Linked DNA regions of Homo sapiens. The protein of the gene in region 1 purifies or fractionates together with the protein of each later gene. This does not show direct contact. Each region holds a gene or a part of one and is shown on either strand. Other genes may lie near its edges.

Region 1 (7,108 bases):
TATTCTTCAGGAGCTCTCATTTTCTTTCTGTTTCTTCTCTTACCCCAAGCTTAGTAACATCACTGGGGGCTTGGGTCAGAACAAGGGAAGGATTACACAGTGGACCCCGGCCCTTTTGCTCTCCCCTTAGCTCTGATTTACATTATTCTGCATACAATGGAATATGTCATCTTCAGATGATGGACTCTATGCATGAAATCCAGGAAAATTGTATTTTAGGTCCCCACCCCTCCAAACACTGTTTTTATGAGGTAGGAATGTATTTCCTTCTTCGTTATGCTGAGGTACTGTAACAATATTCATCCTGTTCATTTCCTGCCTCCTCCCGACACCACTTAGTATTAGGTATCCCAGTACCAAGCCCCTATCTGCCAGGAGTGTATGATGGCTCTCCAGTCCCCATTTCCCCATTATTTGGATACTAAATCCTCTGAGCAATGTCTTTATTTTTTTTTTGAGACAGAATTTCTCTCTTGTTGCTCAGGCTGGAGGAGTGCAATGGCGCAATCGCGGCTCACTGAGTCCTCCGCCTCCTGAGTGGCTGAAATTACAGGCACCCGCCACCACGCCCGGCTAATTTTTTGTATTTTCAGTGGAGGCGGGGTTTCGCCATGTTGGCCAGGCTGGTCTCCAACTCCTGGCCTGAGGTGATCCGCCCGCCTTGGCCTCCCAAAATGCTGGGATTACAGGCGTAAGCCACTGCGCCCAACCTGAGCAATGTTTTTGGTACAAATTTTTTTCCCCTTGAAAAAGGTGTTTTAGTTATAAATACCTTCAAAGAGTAAACAAAATTGCTAGAGAATAAAAAAGGCAGAGTTGCGGTGATTGTGTAATGTTAAATAATAGGAACCATGGGTGGATTCAATGCGGTATTGTAATTTCTTAGAGAAGGAGCAATGGCGATAGAATTTATGATTAGAAGAAACATTCTGGGTTAGGTGTGGTGGCTCACGCCTGTAATCCCAGCCCTTTGGGAGGCCGAGGCAGGTGGATCACTTCAGGTCAGAAGTTTGAGACCAGCCGGGGCAATATGGTGAAACCCCATCTTTACAAAAAAATTTAAAAAGTAGCTGGGCGTGGTGGTATGCGCCAGTAGTCCCAGCTACTCAGGAGGCTGAGGCAGGAGAATCGCTTGAACCCCGGAGGCAGAGGTTGCATTGAGCTGAGATGGCACCATTGCACTCCAGCCTGGGCAACAAGAGTGAAACTCCATCTCAAAAAATAAATAAATAAATAAATAAACAAACATGCCGGCCGTGGTGGCTCTCGTTTGTAATCCCAGCACTTTGGGAGGCCGAGGCATATGGATCACCTGAAGTCAGGAGTTTGAGACCAGCCTGGCCAACATGGCAAAACCCTGTCTCTACTAAAAATACAAAAATTAGCCGGACGTGGTGGTGTGTGCCTGTAATCCCAGCTACTTGGGCGGTTGAGGCAGGAGAATCGCTTGAACCTGGGAGGTGGAGGTTGCATTGAGCCGAGATGGCGCCACTGCACTCCAGCCTGGGTGACAGAGGGAAACTCCGTCTAAAAAAAAAAAGAAAAAATAAAAATAAAATAAATAAATAAATATAAAGGGGTTTGTAGGAAATCAACTAAGGAATATAAAGAGGTATACAAATTCCATGTTTTAGTACTGAAATTTAACATGTGCCTTGTTTTTTAAATTTTATTAAAGGATGCCTAAATTAAAGGACTATTCTTTCAATTTCTAGAACAAATAGTTTGTGTCGGGGCTACTGAAGGCACAACACAGATCAGTGTAGTTGAAATTTATCTCAATATAATTACCTCTTTGGTTCTTCCCTTTCTTTCAGAGACTGATCCTTCAACAAATGCACATTTTCACTGACTCCAAAAAATTTCATTCAAACTTTGGTCTGTATTGCCTGACTTCTTAGACTAGGTTAGTTCCTCTTGTTTTATGTCTATTTCTGTGGCACCTTGTATTTTCCCCTTCTGTACTTCTGCTGCATTTTTTGAATGTTATTCTTTCTAACCTGTAAACTCTATGAAGGCAGGGACAGTGTGTGATTTATTCAACTGCTATAACACGGTGACTGGTACATAATAAATGTTTGTAATTATCTGTTAAATTAATTGACTTGAAAATGTTATCACTCTTGGGAGAACTTGCAATCTCCCTAATTTTTCATATGTTGCTGTTGATTGAATTTAAATAAAATACATATTATTAATAGATTCATGAGGCTAAGGGGTGAAACTTTAAATGAAAATACAGAAAATCATCAGGAATGTAAAAAATCATTGAGAAATATTTATTTTTATCTCCACAGCTTCTTCATTCTTGTTCAATGAAACTGTGATAACCTAAGCGGTAAGTTCCAGTTGGTCTCTCTCTCCAACCCCCTTCACTCTTCATCTGCAAGTTTAGTCACTTTATTGAGGTTAAAACAGGTCATAGATAGTATGTGGTTTAAAACTGTTTAAAAGTTTCACATGTGAAAATCCGGATTTAGGGCCTGGCGCGGTGGCTCACGACTGTAATCTCGGCACTTTGGGAGGCTGAGGCGGGCAGATCGCTTGAGACCTGCCGGGGCAGCATGAAGGGACTTCCCACCCCCACTAAAACAATACAAAAAATGAGCCGGGCTTGGTGGCAAGCCCTGTAGTCCCAGCTACTCGGAGGATGAGGTGGGAAAATCACCTGGGCCCGAGAGGCGGAGGTTGCAGTGAGCCCAGATCGCGCTACCGCACTCCAGCCTGGACGACAGACCCACTCTGTGGCCAAAAAAAAAAAAAAAAAAAAGAAAAAAAGAAAAAAGAAAGAAAAAAAGAAAAGAAAAATCCCGAATTACAAAGCAATTGGGGGAATGGTAATTCAATTAAAAAGGTGTACAACATTCTTTTAAATAGTAAACTGCCCAATGATTACAACATTGATTCAACTGACGAAAAATACAACTTTTCAGACCACGACTAAACATTGTGGCAGTAGAAACTATTTTTTTTTTCCCTGAATGATGAAAGAAAAAAACCAGAGAAGACGTTAAGACAGAACACGTGGAAAAAGCCCATCTCATACTCCATTCTAATGTTTCTTCTACTTACCAGTGCTTTCTGTGTCATTAAACTACTTCAGACTTCAAGAGCAATGGGAAACAATGAAACCTCAGTCCTTTGCTATTTTCCTTTTCAGGTACAGGAGAGGGAGAGGACAGACTTAGGGTTGTGCCTTCGAACAAGCACATTCAACGACAGCCTCAGTTAGAATTCCCAGACGCTGCCTGTCTTCCTGGGTCTTGAAAAAGTGGGGAAAAAGTGAGGTTGGCCCACTCAGACTGCCAGTGATGCTGTGGTGTGACGGGTGTGTATCTCTATCTCATACAATGGGCGCAGGTGAGGACCAGGACCTGCGACCTTCGTACGTTTACAGTCCCTGAAAGCCCTCACCTTTAATTAGTAGGGAAAATAAAAGTCATCTGGCAAGCTGGAGTGCGGGTAAAATACAAGTTAATGAACATGAGCATTCGTGTTCATTAAGAACTCTGGCACAGAGTTCAACGGCAGAGGGCACAATACTCACTGGCCACGGCCAGCTGCTGGCGGCCAGGAGAAGCAGAACCAAAGGACCGCTGGGACTTGTAGTCCACCATGTTTCCCTCGGGATTGCCGATCCCCTTACGAGAACCACAACTCCCAAGGTTTACCGCGCGCGTCGGTCTTCACTGCCCTCTCCGAGGCCGGCTCAGGAACCTCCCGGGAAACTGCCCCCCACCCCGCCCTCGTACGCACGCGTCACGTTTGTTTACCCTGAAGCTCCGCCTCCGGCCATCCCCTGGCTCTCCCCACTCCTCCCTGGAATGCCGTCATGCCGGCGATGAATATTTATGAGGCACACGCGGCCCTCCCGCCCTGCCAGCCTCCCGCCTTCCCGCTCCCGGCGCATGATTAATATTCAATGAGCCCAGATCCGCGGCTGGTTCGCCGGGTTGAGGCGGGGGTAGCGGGCGGGGCCGGCGCTGGGGAGCCCGCGACCCGGGCGGGGAGGGCGTGTGTCGGGGGGGCGGTGGCGGCGAGGCGGGCGCGCGGGATGGAACACTGAGACACCGACGGAATGCTCCGAATCGCCACATAATCCCCTGGAACGGCCGCGCACAACGCCATTGGCTTCTCCCTTCTCCGCGCGCCGCCGCCGTCTCCCACCTCCGCCTCATCGCCTCCCTCTCCGCCCGCTGCCTCCGGAGCTGGGGGGGAAACGCGAAGCCCCACTGCAATGGAGCCCGCCGCCGCGGCCACGGTACAGCGACTCCCCGAGCTCGGCAGGGAGGACCGAGCTTCGGCTCCGGCGGCCGCCGCTGCGGCAGCAGCAGCAGCAGCGGCGGCCGCGGCGGCTCTGGCGGCGGCGGCCGGGGGCGGCCGGAGTCCGGAGCCCGCGCTGACCCCGGCGGCCCCGAGCGGCGGGAACGGCAGCGGCAGCGGGGCGCGGGAAGAGGCCCCAGGCGAGGCGCCGCCGGGGCCGCTGCCGGGCAGAGCGGGGGGTGCCGGGCGCAGGAGGCGGCGCGGGGCGCCCCAGCCCATTGCCGGCGGGGCTGCCCCCGTACCCGGGGCCGGCGGCGGCGCCAACTCCCTCCTGCTGAGGAGAGGGCGGCTGAAGAGGAATCTGTCCGCGGCCGCCGCGGCCGCCTCCTCGTCGTCGTCGTCCTCGGCCGCTGCTGCCTCGCACTCCCCCGGCGCTGCCGGCCTCCCCGCCTCCTGCTCGGCCTCGGCGTCGCTGTGCACCCGGAGCCTGGACAGGAAGACGCTGCTTCTGAAGCACCGGCAGACGCTGCAGCTGCAGCCGTCGGACCGGGACTGGGTGAGGCACCAGCTCCAGCGCGGCTGCGTGCACGTCTTCGACCGCCACATGGCCTCGACCTACCTGCGCCCGGTGCTCTGCACACTGGACACCACGGCCGGCGAGGTGGCCGCCCGCCTGCTGCAGCTGGGCCACAAAGGCGGCGGCGTGGTGAAGGTGCTGGGCCAGGGGCCCGGAGCCGCCGCCGCCCGGGAGCCCGCTGAACCGCCCCCCGAGGCCGGCCCCCGGCTGGCGCCCCCGGAGCCGCGGGACTCGGAGGTACCGCCCGCGAGGAGCGCGCCGGGTGCCTTCGGGGGGCCTCCGCGCGCGCCCCCCGCCGACCTACCCCTGCCCGTCGGCGGCCCGGGCGGGTGGTCGCGCCGCGCCAGCCCAGCGCCCTCGGACTCCAGCCCCGGCGAGCCGTTCGTTGGGGGCCCTGTCTCTTCGCCCCGCGCCCCACGGCCTGTGGTCTCCGACACCGAGAGCTTCAGTCTGAGTCCCAGCGCCGAGAGCGTGTCTGACCGGTTGGACCCCTACAGCAGCGGCGGCGGCTCCTCGTCGTCGTCGGAAGAGCTCGAGGCCGACGCAGCCTCGGCCCCGACGGGGGTCCCGGGCCAGCCCCGCCGTCCCGGCCACCCCGCGCAGCCCCTCCCGCTTCCCCAGACGGCTTCCTCGCCTCAGCCGCAGCAGAAAGCCCCGAGGGCCATTGACAGCCCGGGCGGGGCCGTCCGCGAGGGGTCGTGCGAGGAGAAGGCAGCGGCAGCCGTGGCCCCGGGAGGCCTCCAGTCTACCCCCGGGAGGAGCGGGGTGACCGCGGAGAAGGCGCCTCCGCCGCCCCCGCCGCCCACCCTGTACGTGCAGCTCCACGGAGAGACCACCCGGCGCTTGGAGGCGGAGGAGAAGCCATTGCAGATCCAAAATGACTACCTCTTCCAACTGGGATTTGGGGAGCTGTGGAGGGTGCAGGAGGAAGGCATGGACTCGGAGATTGGCTGCCTCATCCGCTTCTATGCAGGTAAGGAAGTCACCTGCCTTGACGGGTGGTTGCAAAAGCTGCCGAGGACCGAGGAGTGATTCAAATTGCTTGTCAGTTTGCCCAACCCAAGAGTAAGTGCGGGTCCTGATGAGTCTTTGTCTTAAACTTTACAGCTTTTTCATACAGTCTGTGTAGTACTAGATTGAGCAATCTTTAAATCTGCACGTTTTATCAATCTTGAGGGCTCAGAGGTTGGAAAGCAATGTGAAAGAGGTGGCTGAATCACCAGGAAGTACAGGAAGCAGATCCCTCTGAAAGCGGCAAGAGCACCTTTAACCATAAAGGTGCTTCCTCAGGGGCATGTTGGGTTTCAGGCAGTTTGGGATTTCAGGTAAACTGTCACGTGAGCATAAGACGGACAGAAGAAATGACAATAAAAATGCTCTATCACACTTTTGCCTGCATTTGACTGTCCAGTTGAGCGTTCTAGCTGTATGTGCCACCGGGAGCTCCTGACTTGTCAACTGGTGCCTTTGTTTATTCAGCTCTGCCACACTCATAAATTACCCACGGAGCCCTCATTAGAAATCTGACAAAAGGGTGCCTTTTTAACTGATACTTTTCCCCAGCGCTTTTTTTGCTCGATTTCTGTTTCGTCTGCAAGTTTGTCTTGCATAAAAAAAAAGATTTTGCCTGTTTCTCTCATTTTCTTCCAGCCTTTATGGTCAGAACTGACCACCGCAATACGCCTTGCAGGAAGGTTCACAAGAAGGATTTAAGTGGTTGCTATTTCTTCAGATGTGTCCTGAAATCTTCCCCCGTCTTGTTTCAGTACATTAGCAAATTCTTGACTAGGGGTGACCCATGTAATGTTTCTCTTTTGGCTGAAGATTTGGCTAGTACTAAATTCAGGAGCTATAGATGCTGGATATTGTACTTGAGTTTTCTAAGTAGTTTTACATCCCTTTCCTCCTCTGGTTTGAATAATTATGTTCTCAGTGATAAGGAATTTTATTTAAAATAAAGTTCTCATAGCAAAATTAAATCAAGAGTGTTAACTCTTCGCTAACTTTACGTTTTTAGGTTGTAGGTGATGGTGGAAAATAATCATACTTGTAACTCCATTAATTTGTAGCCATTCTTTACAATTTAATGTCTTTTGGTCCAGCTTGTGTGTCCCAGTGGCAATTTAATTAGTTTGCATGAAGAAATCTTTACATCTTTACTCCCACATTGAAATATGCAAGACTGACAGGATTCCTGGTGAGAGAGATGCCCTTTAAATTTCTTGGAAGTTTTTCTGAAATTTAAGTGGATTTCTGATGAATCTTTTA
Region 2 (7,139 bases), on another chromosome or scaffold:
CTGAAAATAGAAGAAACTTATTAGGACAAAGCATAGAAGGATAAAAGACAGAAAATACAGAATAAAGGGATGAAGTAAGAAGGTTGAATGTGTTTCAACTGGAGCCCCAGAAAGAAAGAAGAAAAAGGACAGAAATCGTATTTGAACATATAATGTCTGAGAATTGTTCAAAACTGAGGAAAAACTATTCAAAGGTGATAGGCAGCCGTGAAATGACAGATATCCACTCTACCGTGTATTCTCTTCTTTTTTTTTTTTTTTTTTGAGACAGAGTCTCACTCTGTCACCCAGGCTGGAGTGCAGTGGTGCAATCTTGGCTCACTGCAACTTCCACCGTCTGGGTTCAGGCAATTCTCATGCCTCAGCCTCCCAAGTAGCAGGGACTACAGGCGCACGCCCAGCTAATTTTTGTATTTTTAGTAGAGACAGGGTTTCACCATGTTGGCCAGGCTGGTCTCGAACTCCTGACCTCAGGTGATCCGCCCACCTCAGCCTCCCAAAGTGCTGGGATTATAGGCATGAACCACCACGCCTGGCATACTCTGACTCTCAAAAACCTTAATGTACAAAGCTGCCTTTAAAAGGATTCTGAAACCAAGATGAAGGTAGCTCGGTAGTAGTTGGAACAGGGCTTGCCTGGGCTGAGTTCAAGTACAAGCTCTGCTACTTCCTAGCTGTGCCACCTGGAGAAAGTTGCCAAACTTCAATTTTTTCAAGTAATAAATGAAAATAAAGAGTAACACTGGCCTACCCCATTGTGAGAATCAAATGATAAGTTCGGGCAAGGTGGCTCACACCTGCAATCTTGACAGTTTAGGAGGCCAAGGTGGGAGGGTCTCTTGAGCCCAGCGGTTCCAGGCCAGCCTGGGTAATAGAGTGAGCCCTTGTCTCTAAAAGAAAAAGGAAGACAGAAAAAGAGAATCAAATGATAAAATGCATGTGAATGAGTCTAGTGAATGCGAAGTGCTTTTAAAATGAGATGTGGTTTGAGCAGTTCCACAAGCATGCCCAGGGTCACTACCAGTGACAGGCAGGACTGGCCATATAATTTGCAGGGCCCAGTGAAAAATGAGAGTGCAGGGCCCTTTGTTGAGAAAGTACTAAGAATTTCAAGACGGCGGCAGCAGAGCATTAGACCCAGCACAGGGCTCTTCTAAGTACACGGCCCTGTGTACTACACAGGTCACATACCCATGGAACTGGTCTTAGGTACAGACCCTGCAAAGAACCGTACTGTGCCTTAGGAAAGGGCTGCTCATCCCACATCCAGGTATCTGCAGCCATAGCGCATGTCATCTTTGAATTCTGAAGGGCAGTAATGTTTAGGGAAAATGCAAGCACATGTGTTTCCAAATGCCAAGGAAGGCAAGTGCAGTGATCAGAGTGGTTTTCTGGGAGAGTGGGTGGGGCTAGCAAGGCTGCCATCGGAACTGTGGAACTGACTGTTCTCCACAGACTCTGGCCTAGAAAAAAAAAGAACCGTGTAGCTGTATCTACAGGGCCTGTTGTTGTTGCTGCGGTGTATTACAACACAGCCTGGCAGCCTCCCCTGCCTTTCTGTCTTCCTCCTGGAAGAGCCTGGTCCCAGACATGTGACACGTCCACACAGCCCTCTGCAGATTTGCCCACACTGCTCCTCACTGTTCCCTCAATTATTAGGCTTTTCCAGGTCTGCATGCTTTTTGCTCACGCTGTCCCCTCCTGCCTGGGAGTCCCTTTCCCCCTTGTCCACACCCCTCTGTCTGGCAAACACCTACTTCATCTTCTAAGATTCAGCTCTACTGTCAGGTGACCTCTTCAATGACGCCTTCCCTGCCTCTCGTAGGAAGAGCTGATTCCTCTTTCCTTGGCGCCTTCCATTGTGCCCTATGCAGACATCTGTCACAACCCCTGTAACATGAAGAGGAGAACTGACATGTTACGTGTATGTCACTGTCTCCTAATGAAGCCCTTGAGGGTTGGGACATATATACCCTGATAGCATAGAGCTTAATATGTGCTGTTATTTTTATTTTATTTTATTTTATTTATTTATTATTATTTTTTTTGAGATGGAGTTTTGCTCTTGTTGCCCAGGCTGGAGTGCAATGGTGCCATCTCGGCTCACTGCAACCTCCGCCTCCCGGGTTCAAGCGATTCTTCTGCCTCAGCCTCCCGAGTAGCTGGGATTACAGGCATGCGTCACCATGCCTGGCTAATTTCGTATTTTTAGTAAAGATGGGGTTTCTCCATGTTGGTCAGGCTGGTCTCGAACTCCCGACCTCAGGTGATCCGCCCACCTCTGTCTTCCAAAGTGCTAGGATTACAGGTGTGAACCACTGTGCCCTGCCTAATATGTGCTATTATTAAGCATAGTAGATGCTTAATCAATTGGTATTAGTATGCAGAGGAATTTTGATCAACTTTGTTTTTCTGCGTTAATGAACAAATACATTGTTTCAGTGACTCCCCTCGGCAACTGGTAAACAGGGAAGCTTCTAGGCACTGAGGACAGACAAATGACTGAGACAGAACCCCTGCCCTCGAGGCGGTTTCAGTCTTGGCTTTATTTGTCTTTTCTGCAGACATCATCACCCTTTTTTTTTTTTTAGAATGGAGTCTCGCTCTTGTTGCCCAGGCTGGAGTGCAATGGTGCGATCTCGGCTCACTGCAACCTCTGTTCAAGCAATTCTCCTGCCTCAGCCTCCTGAATAGCTGGGATTACAGGCATGCGCCACCATGCCCGGCTAATTTTTTAAAATTATTTTTAGTAGAGACGGGGTTTCTCCATGTTGGTCAGGCTCGTCTCGAACTCCCGACCTCAGGTGATCCGCCCATCTCGGCCTCCCAAAGTGCTGGGATTACAGGCGTAAGCCACCGCGCCCGGCGCCCAGGCATCATCTCTTGAAGGCAGCATGGCGATTTCTGGACGAGGCTCTTCATAAATGTTTGAATGCAGTATAGTGCAAAGAGAGCAGGTTTGGAGCCAGGAGACATGAGTTCTAATCTGGCTATGGGATATTAGGTTTCCATAGGTAACTATTAGGTCCCACGTGTAACTAGCTATGGGACATCAGGTTTCTGTTTCCTTAAAAATGAGAGAGTTGATTAGAGATTCCCTAAGGCCCAGGTGCAGCTCCTGCATCTCTATGGGAGTAACTCAGAGGTAGCCATCTGGTTGGCAGTCTACCTTTCGGAGTTGGCGGAAGAACTCAGCCGTTTTGTTTTTGTTTTTGTTTTGAGATGGAGTCTTGCTCTGTCACCAGGCTGGAGTGCAGTGGCGTGATCTCGACTCACTACAACCTCTGCCTCCCAGGTTCAAGCGATTCTCCTACCTCAGCCTCCCGAGTAGCTGGGACGGCGCGCGCCACCAAGCCCAGCTAATTTTTGTATTTTTAGTAGAGACGGGGTTTCACCATGTTGGCTAGGATGGTCTCGATCTCTTGACCTCGTGGTCCGCCCACCTCGGCCTTCCAAAGTGCTGGGATTACAGGCGTGAGCCACCCCACCTGGCCGAACTCAGCCGTAAGGCCTCTTCCTGTTTTAATCTCCTGGGATCTCCTGCTTGAAAGGTAGCAAGCCAAGAGAAAGTATGGTCTTTACAGTCACTGGGTGTCCAGAGGGAGGTGATATCTGCTAAATTGGTTCTCGAGGTGGGATTTCCCCAGTCCCGACTGGGCATCTTAGACTTAATGGGGTTGCTTCCTAGGGCTAACCTGGCCAGCTGACCTAACAAACAGCCTGGCCTGCCCCTCTCCGGCCTCTAGGTAGGCCCTGTGGACAGATAGGAGGGGCAGTGCCTTCAGAGAGACGATACAGATGGGAAGTCAACTAGCTTGCTTAGGCATTAATTTCTCGGGAGGTAAGAGATGTGAGGGGGTGTCAGTTTCCACCATCCCTTCTCTATGGCCCCCACAAAGGGCAAGGGCCAGACACGTGGGCTGGCGTGGGGAGGTGGAGGAGCAAATGATGGGGGCGGGGCCTCATTTGCATGGACGGCGCGCGGCCACCAATCCGGACAGGCGGATCGACAGCCCGCGCGCCTTTTGGGGGCGGACTGACAGCCCCGGGGCCCTATGGAAGGCGGGTCCTGCGGCCGGCTGGGGCGGGACGGCGCCGGGCGCTGCCCCGGGGATTCGGGCCGGCTCGCGGGCGCTGCCAGTCTCGGGCGGCGGTGTCCGGCGCGCGGGCGGCCTGCTGGGCGGGCTGAAGGGTTAGCGGAGCACGGGCAAGGCGGAGAGTGACGGAGTCGGCGAGCCCCCGCGGCGACAGGTACCGGCGCCATGGCCACGGAGATGGGGCGGCCGGCCGCGGCGCCCCGGGAGCCGAACGCCCTCCTTCCAGGTCCCGCCGCGGTCGCACTCGCTGCCTCAGCTCCCACCCCCACGCGGCTTCGCAGCCCAGGAGCCGCGTGTCGCGGGGGAGCGGGGTCCGGAAGCCTCGAGGGGAGCGCGCGGGAGGCCTCGGCCCCACTGCGGCGCCCCTCGCCGCGCCCCAGGGGCCGCGGGGCCGGTGCTCCCCGCGGGAGGCGCGGAGACTAGTGACCGCGGGCGCCGCTCTCCGCCCCCGCCGGCCTCTCCCGGCAGAGGCGAGGCGGGTCGCGCCCGCCCGTCCTCACTGGGCTTTTGTTTCCCGCCCGGGATGACAGGTCCCGCTCCGCCTCCGGTCTCTGGCCCCCGGCTCTCCCCGGACAGGCGGCCGGACCCTCAGCCGGCACCGCTGCGGGCGGGAGCCAAACTTCGCTTTCGGGTCCGGGCGCCGGGACAACCGGACCCCAGGGCGAGCCGAGCGCCGGGACGCCGCGGGCGCGGGGCGGATTCGCCCACCTGGCGGGGCTGTGAAGGGGATGGTGGCGGGGTGGCCGCGCTCCGGGTGTGGACGGGCGGTCCCCGCCTTCACCTGCCGCCTCGGGACAAGCGTTGGGGAACCGCATCGCCGCTGTCGGCCGCTTGTGGAGGAGTCCGCGCAGCGCCGTCTAACAGGTGATCCGCGTCACTCCCAGGCCATACCGAAGCGGCTGAACGCTGTGCCAGGGCTCCTTATGCTCTTCTGTTCTGGGACGTGAAAACGTCTTCCGCCTTATTGGTCGTCCAAAAAGGTGCACCGGTCACAGTATAAGAGTCAAAAACCAGTATTACCAAAAAGACACTACGAGCGTCAGGGTGCAGAGTGGCTTTCTTCGATTAACGAACCGGCAGGACCATCGTAGTCTCTAAAATCGGGTTCTGCAGTGGTGGCGAAAGCGTAGTAAGTTTCAAGTTGTAAGCGGAGATGCAGAATTGTAGATACCCTTCAGTGTGGTTCAGGACAGTGTGTTCAGCGTTTGGCCGCCGTTCAGTAAATTCTGCATGAAGCAGTTTGAGCTCGTGGTTTTGGATTTACTTTTCAGGAGTATGTTTTCCAGTGGAATAAGGCTTACTACTGAATGGGAGCTTTCTTTGCCTCTCTGAGTGTAGACAGGAGTGTTTATTTTCATTGTCTTCCCATTTTGTTAGATTGTGGACAAGGGAAAAGTTAAAGCATATTTTGGTTAAGTATTTTTAATAGTCTGGGATTCTATCCACCTCCTCCATAAGGGTTTTTACTTTAGAGAATTATAAAGTAATTCTCTAAAGGGAGCTGCTTCTCTTGGTGTTTGAATCAAAAGCCAAGAATCGACTTGAAAAAAATTCTTATTCTGGTGGGAAATTTTTATTGTCATACTTTCACTTCACCATTTTCTGTTTGTCTCTCCCCCAGCTGACCTCTGCCTGACAGTCTGCAATTATGGCCCTGACCAATTTAGAGATTCTATACAAATGACATTTTTAAAACGAGGGTTATTAATACTCATTATTTGTGAGAAACACTTTATTTAGTTACCCAGTTTTTTTCTTCTAATGTGTCTTGGTTGATATCTGTATTAGGTAAGATTTATACTTCGGAGATTAAGTTTAAGTTAAGAACAAAGTTGCTAATCTTGATTTAATTATGCTAGTTTATTATTCATTGAATGGTCATTTTACTTATTTGCCTAGGTAATTACAGTTAGCTAATAGCTGATAAGAGTTCGCCATTGAACCATCAACTCTTCAACCAATAATTGTGACTATTTTAGATTAAAAAGAATATAGTGGTCTTTATTGTTTTATTTCTCCATAACAAGCTATGAGGTCTTTGTATGTTTCTGAGTCTTTAATTCTTTTAGTTATGGGAATTTTGGGTGAATTTCTTTTTTAAAACATATTTTTAATCAGTTCAAATGAAAAACTTAAAATATTGCATTAGGCAACTTATTAAATCTTTAGTTATCTGTTTATTCTTGGAAAATAATGCATATTTTGGGTTCAGTTTAGTTTCCTAAAGGCTTCTCTGCTTAGGATGAATTAGTCTGGAGAGGAAAGAACATCCTGTTTGTATACCTGTAGAAGAAGTTACTGCTGTTAAAAGCTAAGTTGGCTTTTTGATGTTTAGTGTGGATAGGTTGAACAATAATTCATCCTCACGTTCGGAGGGCTTATTCTATGTAAATAGTTGAAAGGAACTGGATAAGACTGTAGCTTCCATTATTTTTTATCATTTATATAATTGCTCTTTAGTGTACTTAAATATATAAAATACTATTAATAATTAGTTGTTTATTGTCCTTATTCTGTGATGATGTATGTATATAAACCACATACAATAAAGTTGCATTTCATAAATTTATTTACATATGTGTATTTTAGTATTTTAACTATAAAAGTTAAAGTTTTATTAACTTTAGGTTTAATTAAAAGCCCATTTTAAAATTTAGTTTTTAGATATTTTAATTACTGATTTTTCTCTACTTTAACTTGTAATAGATGATATCATAAAATTATCAACTACAATTTCAGTTTCAAAAATTAAGCATAAGTTGAATTCTCAAATCCACACAATAAACATTGGGAGTGTTTTTAAAGCCATTTACCCTCAGGTATAACTCCTTTTGAGTTTGGAGGTGATAGTAAGTATTTTTAAATAAATGAAGCTACAGAAAACAAGGGCTTACATTAAAACAACTAATTTTGAGGCTAGATCAAATGCCACTATTATAGACATTAGTTTTGCTTTTTTTTTTTTTTTTTTTTTTGAGATGGCGTTTTGCTCTTGTTGCCCAGGCTGGAGTGCAAGGGCGCAGTCTCGGCTCATTGCAACCT
Region 3 (7,897 bases), on another chromosome or scaffold:
AGATACAGAGTTTCCACACAGGTTCTCCAAGGCCCCACCAGAGCAGCTAGATACAGAGTGTCGACTGGTGCATTCACAAACCTTGAGCTAAACACAGGGTGCTGATTGGTGTGTTTACAAACCTTGAGCTAGATACAGAGTGCCGATTGGTGTATTTACAATCCCTGAGCTAGACATAAAAGTTCTCCAAGGCCCCACCAGAGCAGCTAGATACAGAGTGTGGATTGGTGCACTCACAAACCTTGAGCTAAACACAGGGTGCTGATTGGTGTGTTTACAAACCTTGAGCTAGATACAGAGTGCCGACTGGTGTATTTACAATCCCTGAGCTAGACATAAAGGTTCTCCAAGGCCCCACCAGAGTAGCTAGATACAGAGTGTGGATTGGTGCACTCACAAACCTTGAGCTAAACACAGGGTGCTGATTGGTGTGAGCCCAGCTGCCTTCACCTAGTGGATCCCGCACCGGGGCTGCAGGTGGAGCTGCCTGCCAGTCCTGCGCCGTGCGCTCGCATTCCTCAGCCCTTGGGTGGTCGATGGGACTGGGCGCCGTGGAGCAGGAGGTGGTGCTCGTCGGGGAGGCTCCGGCCGCACAGGAACCAATGGAGTGGGTGGGAGGCTCAGGCATGGGGGCTGCAGGTCCCGGAGCCCTGCCCCGCGGGAAGGCAGCTAAGGCCCGGCGAGAAATCGAGCACAGCGCCGGTGGGCCGGCACTGCTGGGGGACCCAGTACACCTCCGCAGCCACTGGCCCGGGTGCTAAGTCCCTCATTGCCCGGGGCCAGCAGGGCTGGCTGGCTACTCCAAGTGCGGGGCCCGCCAAGCCCACGCCCACCCGGAACTCCAGCTGGCCCGCAAGAGCCGCACGCAGCCCCGGTTCCCGCTCTCGCCTCTCCCTGCACACCTCCCTGCAAGCTGAGGGAGTGGGCTCCAGCCTTGGCCAGCCCAGAAAGGGGCTCCCACAGTGCAGTGGGGGGCTGAAGGGCTCCTCAAATGCCACCAAAGTGGGAGCCCAGGCAGGGGAGGCGCCGAGAGCAAGCCAGGGCTCTGAGGACTGCCAGCACGTTGTAACCTCTCAGTATGACTTAAATTGTGTGGGTATTTCAAATAATTGAAAGTTTTTGGACAAAAGAATATGTAATGTCTAAAGCACTGTTTTTAGAAAATTATTTTGGTAGTTGTTTAGAAGGAATTAATGCACAAAACCATCATAATGATTCAAGTTTGAAATGAAAAAATAATTCATAAGGTTTAGAAACTGATGAATTTATTTAGAAATACCCGGTTTGGGCCGGGCGCGGTGGCTCACGCTTGTAATCCCAGCATTTTGGGAGGGCAAGGTGGGCGGATCACGAGGTCAGGAGTTCGAGACCAGCCTGACCAACATGGCGAAACCCCGTCTCTGCTAAAAATACAAAAAAATTGGCCAGGCCTGGTGGCACATGCCTGTAGTCCCAGCTACTCGGGAGGCTGAGGCAGAAGACTCGCTTGAACCCGGGAGGCAGAGGTTACGGTGAGCCGAGATCATGCCACTGCACTCCAGCCTGGGCGACAGAGTGAGACTCGTCTCAAAAAAAAAAAAAAAAAAAAAAAGAAATACCCGGTTTGGGCCGGGCGCGGTGGCTCACGCCTATAATCCCAGCACTTCCGGAGGCCGAGGCTGGTGGATCACCTGAGGTCAGGAGTTCAAGACCAGCCTGGCCAACATGGTTAAAATCTGTCTCTACTAAAAAATACAAAAATTAGCCAGGTGTGGTGGCAGGTGCCTTAATCCCAGCTATTTGGGAGGCAGAGGCAGGAGAATCGTTTGAATCCGGGAGGCAGAGGTTGCAGTGAGTCGAGATTGAGCCATTGCACTCAAGCCTGGGGGACAAGAGCGAGACTTCTCTTAAAAAAAAAAAAGGAAACAAAAAAAAAAGAAATACCTGGTTTGAGGCCGGGCGCGGTGGCTCACGCCTGTAATCCTAGCACTCTGGGAAGCTGAGGTGGGTGGATCACCTGAGGTCAGGAGTTCGAGACCAGCCTGGCCAACGTGGTGAAACCCCGTCTCTACTAAAAATACAAAAATTAGCTGGGTGTGGTGGCATGCGCCTGTAATCCCAGCTATTCGGGAGACTGGGGCAGGAGAATTGCTTGAACTTGGGAGGCGGAGAGCTGAGACTGTGCCACTGCACTCCAGCCTGCGGAGAGCTGAGACTGTGCCACTGCACTCCAGCCTGGGCAACAGAGTGAGACTCCATCTCAAAAAAAAAATTTTTTTTTAAATTCCCGGTTTGAAATTGAAAATCAGAAATAAAATTAGGTCAGGCCCATTTATTTATTTATCTATTTATTTATTTATTTCCTGAGATGGAGTCTCGCTCTGTTGCCCAGGCTGGAGTGCAGTGGTGCCATCTCGGCTCATTGCAACCTCCACCTCCCGGGTTCAAGCAATTCTCTTGCCTCAGCCTCCCGAGCAGCTGGGATTACAGGCATGTGTCACCACGCCTGGCTAATTTTTGTACTTTTAGTAGAGATGGGATTTCACCATGTTGGCCAGGCGGTCTCAAACTCCTGACCTCGTGATCTGCCCGCCTCGGCCTCCCAAAGTGATGGGATTACAGGTGTGAGCCAACACGCCCAGCCATTCAGGCCTAGTTATTTAGATTTGGGTGTTGCTTATTGAATCTTTGAATATGGAGGAAAAGTTATGAGATAAAAAGAATAAAAATAGAGACTATTCAAAGGCTATGCATGGGACTGGGCACTGTGGCTCATGCCTGTAATACCAGCACTTTGGGAGGCCAAGGTGGGTGGATCAGCAGGTCAAGAGATCAAGACCATCCTGGCCAACATGGTGAAACCCCATCTCTACTAAAAATACAAAAATTAGCTGGGCGTGGTGGTGCACATCTGTAGTCCCAGCTACTCGGGAGGCTGAAGCAGGAGAATCGCTTGAACCTGGGAGGCAGAGGTTGCAGTGAGCCAAGATTGCACCACTGCACTCCAGCATGGCGACAGCGAGACTCCATCTAAGAAAAAAAAAACAAAACTAAACCAAAGGCTATGCATGAGACAAAGTGAACAGTTTATTACTGTGATTATAATAAAATGTTGAATTTATATAGGGTAAAATCTTGATAGAATGCTTGAATTATATAGGTATTATGGGAAATACAATGTTATGGTTAATTGAAGAATAATACAAAATTTTGTTTTAACTTTTGCTCGCTGGGTTTTTTTCCCCCCCCAAAAATTATACTTTTTTTCCTCTTGATAATTAGGAAACACAGATAAATTATTTTTAGATGATTCAAGATGCCACTATCCTTCAAGTTGATTATTGTAAAATACGTGTTTTCAATGTAAAATAACACAGTTATGGAGTTTGGGATATAGCCATGGTAACGACAGAACATACCCTGGTGTTTTAAGATTAGGGAAAGTCGGATAACATCAAAACAATTCTAAGAAAAAATTTTAAGTATTTTTCAGGCTCTATTAATTAAGAAGTACTTCAGTGCTTTTTTTTCTTTTTTTTTTCCAACACTACAAAGGCTAAAGATGTTATTATCAAATGTATTACTACATCATTGGCACAGTTTCTATTGGTATCTACTTGCTTTTTAATACGGAAGATGTTTATGATTTACACTCCTCCTACTTTAGAAATTCTCTCCATTCACTTCTTTTGTGCCCCTCCAGATATAATCTGAACTTCCAGGAATAGATCATTCTTGGTGTTACAAATGTTGGCTTCCCCCCTCCCTGGAATTCTATTAGAATGTTTCTGTCACTTTAGAAGCTTTCTTATTCTGGTGTAACATGCCAAGAAACCCAGGTATAAAATAGTGATTGTTGAATCTTACTTTGACACGTGTGCCCGTCCTTATAAATCTAGACCCTGTACATTACATGCATACAACTATCCCTATGGATCTACTAGTAAATAATCTCACAGACTCCACCTGAGGCTTCTGGAAAAAAAAACAATTACCTTAAATTTTATTAAGAGCTCTTCGTAACCTACTGAGCAAGATCAGTGAATCCTAAAAAGATTCAGTCCCCGGTTCCCAAAGCGCTTCCCCGCCCCGTGTTTCTGAACAGCTGGAGAGGACAAACCTCCGCTAAGAAGCGGAGGCCGCCAGTGCTCATCACACGCAGGAATTAGGATATCTGGCTTGAGAACACCTATGCTGTACCACATTCTTCTCTCCCCCTACCCCGCCTGAAATAAAACATAGTGAAGCGTAAATCTTGAGTCCCTTGGTACCTTCTCAGAAACGGCGGCGAGGAGGCTTCAGAGGGGCTTCCTGGGCGGGGATCCAGACGGTCGCGCGGGTATTCAGCACTCTGGGCGGGACAGTCCCTGTCCCGAAGGGAGGGCCCAGGAGGGGTGGAGCCGTCCCCGCCCGAACACGGGGGCATCCGCGCTCCCCGTAGGGTACCCCGCGTGCTGGCTCCGAAGCGGTGGCCGTCGGGGTGGCGCTCTTCCTCCGCTCTTTGGGGTCCCGGCGCCCCTCAGGGCAGGGCGGGAGACCGCTGAGGAGGCACCCTCAAGTTCACCTCAGGCTCATGACACCAGCCCCGCCGCGGTTCCCCCTGACCGGCTTTCCGCTGGCCCTGGCGGCTGCGGAACGGTCAACTAGACCCCACTAGCTGAAGCCGGCATCACCTGGGAAGCAGCCATGCCGCCCGGAGGCCACACCCGGGGGAGGAGCCTGCGGACGCCCAGTCGGGTGGAGCACGCCAGGTGAGCACGCCTGCGCAGTCGGGCCGTAAACAAGCCCACCCCTTCCCTTTGGCCCGCCCTCGCAGGGCTGGCCCGCGGGTGGGAGGGGCGAGAAGGAAGAGGCAGGGGGTGGGGGAAGAGGGAGCACCAGGAACAGCGCCTGCGCGGTGGGCGTGATCCGGGCACTTAGGGCAGGATGAACGCTGCTTTCCAAGATGGCGACGGAGGGAGGAGGGAAGGAGATGAACGAGATTAAGACCCAATTCACCACCCGGGAAGGTCTGTACAAGCTGCTGCCGCACTCGGAGTACAGCCGGCCCAACCGGGTGCCCTTCAACTCGCAGGGATCCAACCCTGTCCGCGTCTCCTTCGTAAACCTCAACGACCAGTCTGGCAACGGCGACCGCCTCTGCTTCAATGTGGGCCGGGAGCTGTACTTCTATATCTACAAGGGGGTCCGCAAGGTACCGACCCGGGCGTCACCGGAGCCAGCCAGCGGCGTAGGCAGAGGCCGGGAGCAGGGCGGTGACAGTGGGGCCAGGGTGACCGAGAGGGGTGGCCGTCGCTCTTACTTTTGAGTGGGCCGGTAACTCCACTGGGGTACTCCTGAGGAGAGGGGATTCAGGAGTAAGGAGGGTGGTGGCGGTGGCGTTTCGAAGGGGTGGGGGCAGTGGAAAGGGACCGTGGGGCGCGGGGGTTCTGGCTGGGAGGCTCCCGGGGGAGCCGGCTGCGTCCCCTCCAGCCTGGTCCATCAGGCTCTGACATGGCCAGGGAGCGGGCCTGCGAGTCCCCGGAAGAGGTGAGGTGGCCGTCTTGTCTGCTTCGATTGCCTCGCCTCCCTGGAGGGTTGGAAGTCTCGCCCTGGGTTAGAGAACAGGGACGCAAGACGGCTTAACAAGATCTCTGTAAGGCGGAACCGGGGCCGGGAAGCGGAGCATTGAGACTAGGTCAGAAAGAACCTGCTCGGCACGCAGGGCTACTCCACCTGCTGCCGCACTGACACTTCCTAGGAGCCTCTCCTGGTGTTAACATTTCTATTTCCAAAAACATCCGCGGGAGGACGGCTGTCACTGTCTCCGCCGTGGGGACCTTCTGAAAGATTGTTAAGGAGAGTCATCTTGTCCCTTGTAGTATGCGAAGGGCTGAGTACTACAGTTGAAATGATGTTTCCAGTGAACTAAGCTGGTTCAGAGGGGTTGTGTGAGAGTGCCCAGATTAATCTTGTCCAACAAGTCAGACTGTGTCCCAAACAGGGAGTGATATGCTTTAAAAGCTGCTTTAAAGGGACCATCCTTCTTGGCGGGCGAGTTACCGGTAATTCTGTGAAACATGTAAGCATCCTTTAAAAGTATCTCTTTAAAAGCAGCCATTTATTAGAGTTTTTCTTTCATTGGCTATGTAACTATGTTTTCACTGAGAATTGCTTATTTTTGAGATTGTAGTCTTTGACTTGATGTCATGGAAGAGTGAGGAAATTAATGCATCCCACAGCACCTCCAAATAGGACAAGGTGATAAAAGATTAAGTCGTAAATGCATGTTAGCATGAAAATAAATTGTTCATATTGAAGAGTGAACATTCTTCAGGATTTAATATAGCCAGATCCAGTACAGGATTTTCGCTTGTTACAAGAGCTAGGGAAATGACAGTGGTATCTAAATGTAGCAAAGTTGTTTCTTTGATTCAGGGTGAATCTTTTTTTCTTAGTCTTTATGATAATAAGTGTACCACTGTATTTAGGGTATGCTGTTGGAAGTTATTAAGGGTAAATCGCTTGACCTTTTTTTTTTCCTCGTTTGGAATTGCAAAAGCTCGAAGTAGTCTTCAGTCTAGGGGCTGAAGTTTTACTCCTACTCCCAACTTTGTCACTGACTTGTTTGGGTGACCTTGGATAAGTTATTTAACTTCTATTTGCACCTCTTTAAAAAGGGAATGTTACAGTGCACGTTGTAATTAATAATATAATAATCATAATGAACTTTAAGGCCCTGAAACACTCAGTAGATGTAAAATATAGTTAAATACTGACTGTCAAATAAGAAGCTGCTGTCTTGACATTGATAATCAGAGTGAAAGGACCAATTTTGTCTCAGGAAATTAAGTTTAGAATTTTAAGTTATAAAAATTTATATTTATATAAAAATACGATGTGCTTAAAAACTAAATTCACTAACTAGCAATTATTAATGTAGGAATTACTTAAAAATTTTTTTTTCTTTGAAATGTTATGACTTCTGAAGCATCCTAATGGCAGACCTTATCTGGATCTGGTAGCCCTGTTTTACATCATAAAGACAGGTTTCTTGCCTGGAAGTATCATTACAATAGTGTTCTCTTTTAGTGGGACGCTATTCCCTGAAGGGTAAAAGGAGGCAAGGTTTTTAAAACCACACCAAAAAATTATTTTAAACAAGATAAATGTGAAATACGTAAATTGCCCTTACCTGCATAATTTGAGTGTTTTAACGCTTTTTGGGTAAAATTTCATTTTCATGTGGTAGTATCTTGTAGATACATTTGCATTGTGTTGCAGATGTTTCTACTCTCTTTTAATTGTAACTTAAACATTTTTTTCCATGAATGAGTTGGCATTTATTTGTTGTTATTTCTGAGTATAAGTGACTTTTTATGACTATTTTCTGATTTAAAATATAGGAAATACATTTTCCTTAATTGGAAAACCAAAATTTACTTTTTAGAGTTAGTAGTTACAAACATATTTTTGACAGTTGGCTATTAAACATGTTTTTGTTTTTGTTTTTAGAGACAGGATCTCATCCTGTTGCCTAGGCTGGAGTGCGGTGGCGTGCTCATCGTTCACTACAGCCTCAAACTCCTGGGCTCAAATGATCTTCCCACTTCAGCCTTCCTAGTGGCTGGAACTACAGGTGTGCACCACCCTGGCTAATTAAAAAAAAAAATGTTTTTTAGAGATGGAGGTCTTGCCGTGTTGCCCAGGCTGGTCTTGAACTCCTGGCCTCAAGCGATCCTCCCACCTCAGCCTGCTAAAGTGCTGAGATTATAGGTGTGACCCACCATGCCCAGCGCACAGTTGGCTGTTTTGACTTTTTTTTTTTTTTTTTTTTTTTGGTCCTTTGAGGCGTGTAAAATTTTACAATAATTATTTGGATTATTCAGAAGATCTAATTTAGATGAGTAAATTCAACTTAAGTCTGTGTGTAAAATGA

What was found. Proteins that work in one complex are often made in the same cells at the same time.
Region 2: the proteins of PHLPP1 (region 1) and FKBP5 purify together in Homo sapiens (affinity purification with mass spectrometry; 4 studies listed by BioGRID and IntAct, with this or other methods). This does not show direct contact.
Region 3: the proteins of PHLPP1 (region 1) and WDR20 purify together in Homo sapiens (affinity purification with mass spectrometry; 4 studies listed by BioGRID and IntAct, with this or other methods). This does not show direct contact.

Annotation. Positions count from the first base shown.
Region 1 is NC_000018.10:62,711,447-62,718,554, forward strand, and holds the start of PHLPP1 (PH domain leucine-rich repeat-containing protein phosphatase 1), read left to right. Parts: upstream 1-4,094; 5' UTR 4,095-4,237; coding exon 4,238-5,813; intron 5,814-7,108. UniProt on the Homo sapiens protein: Protein phosphatase involved in regulation of Akt and PKC signaling.
Region 2 is NC_000006.12:35,685,916-35,693,054, reverse strand, and holds the start of FKBP5 (peptidyl-prolyl cis-trans isomerase FKBP5), read left to right. Parts: upstream 1-4,139; 5' UTR 4,140-4,251; exon of another isoform or gene 4,252-4,323; intron 4,324-7,139. UniProt on the Homo sapiens protein: Immunophilin protein with PPIase and co-chaperone activities. Component of unligated steroid receptors heterocomplexes through interaction with heat-shock protein 90 (HSP90).
Region 3 is NC_000014.9:102,135,000-102,142,896, forward strand, and holds the start of WDR20 (WD repeat-containing protein 20), read left to right. Parts: upstream 1-4,897; 5' UTR 4,898-4,924; coding exon 4,925-5,173; coding exon of another isoform or gene 5,174-5,209; intron 5,210-7,897. Other genes in the region: HSP90AA1 (heat shock protein HSP 90-alpha), read right to left, coding at 4,251-4,405. UniProt on the Homo sapiens protein: Regulator of deubiquitinating complexes. Activates deubiquitinating activity of complexes containing USP12. Anchors at the base of the ubiquitin-contacting loop of USP12 and remotely modulates the catalytic center of the enzyme.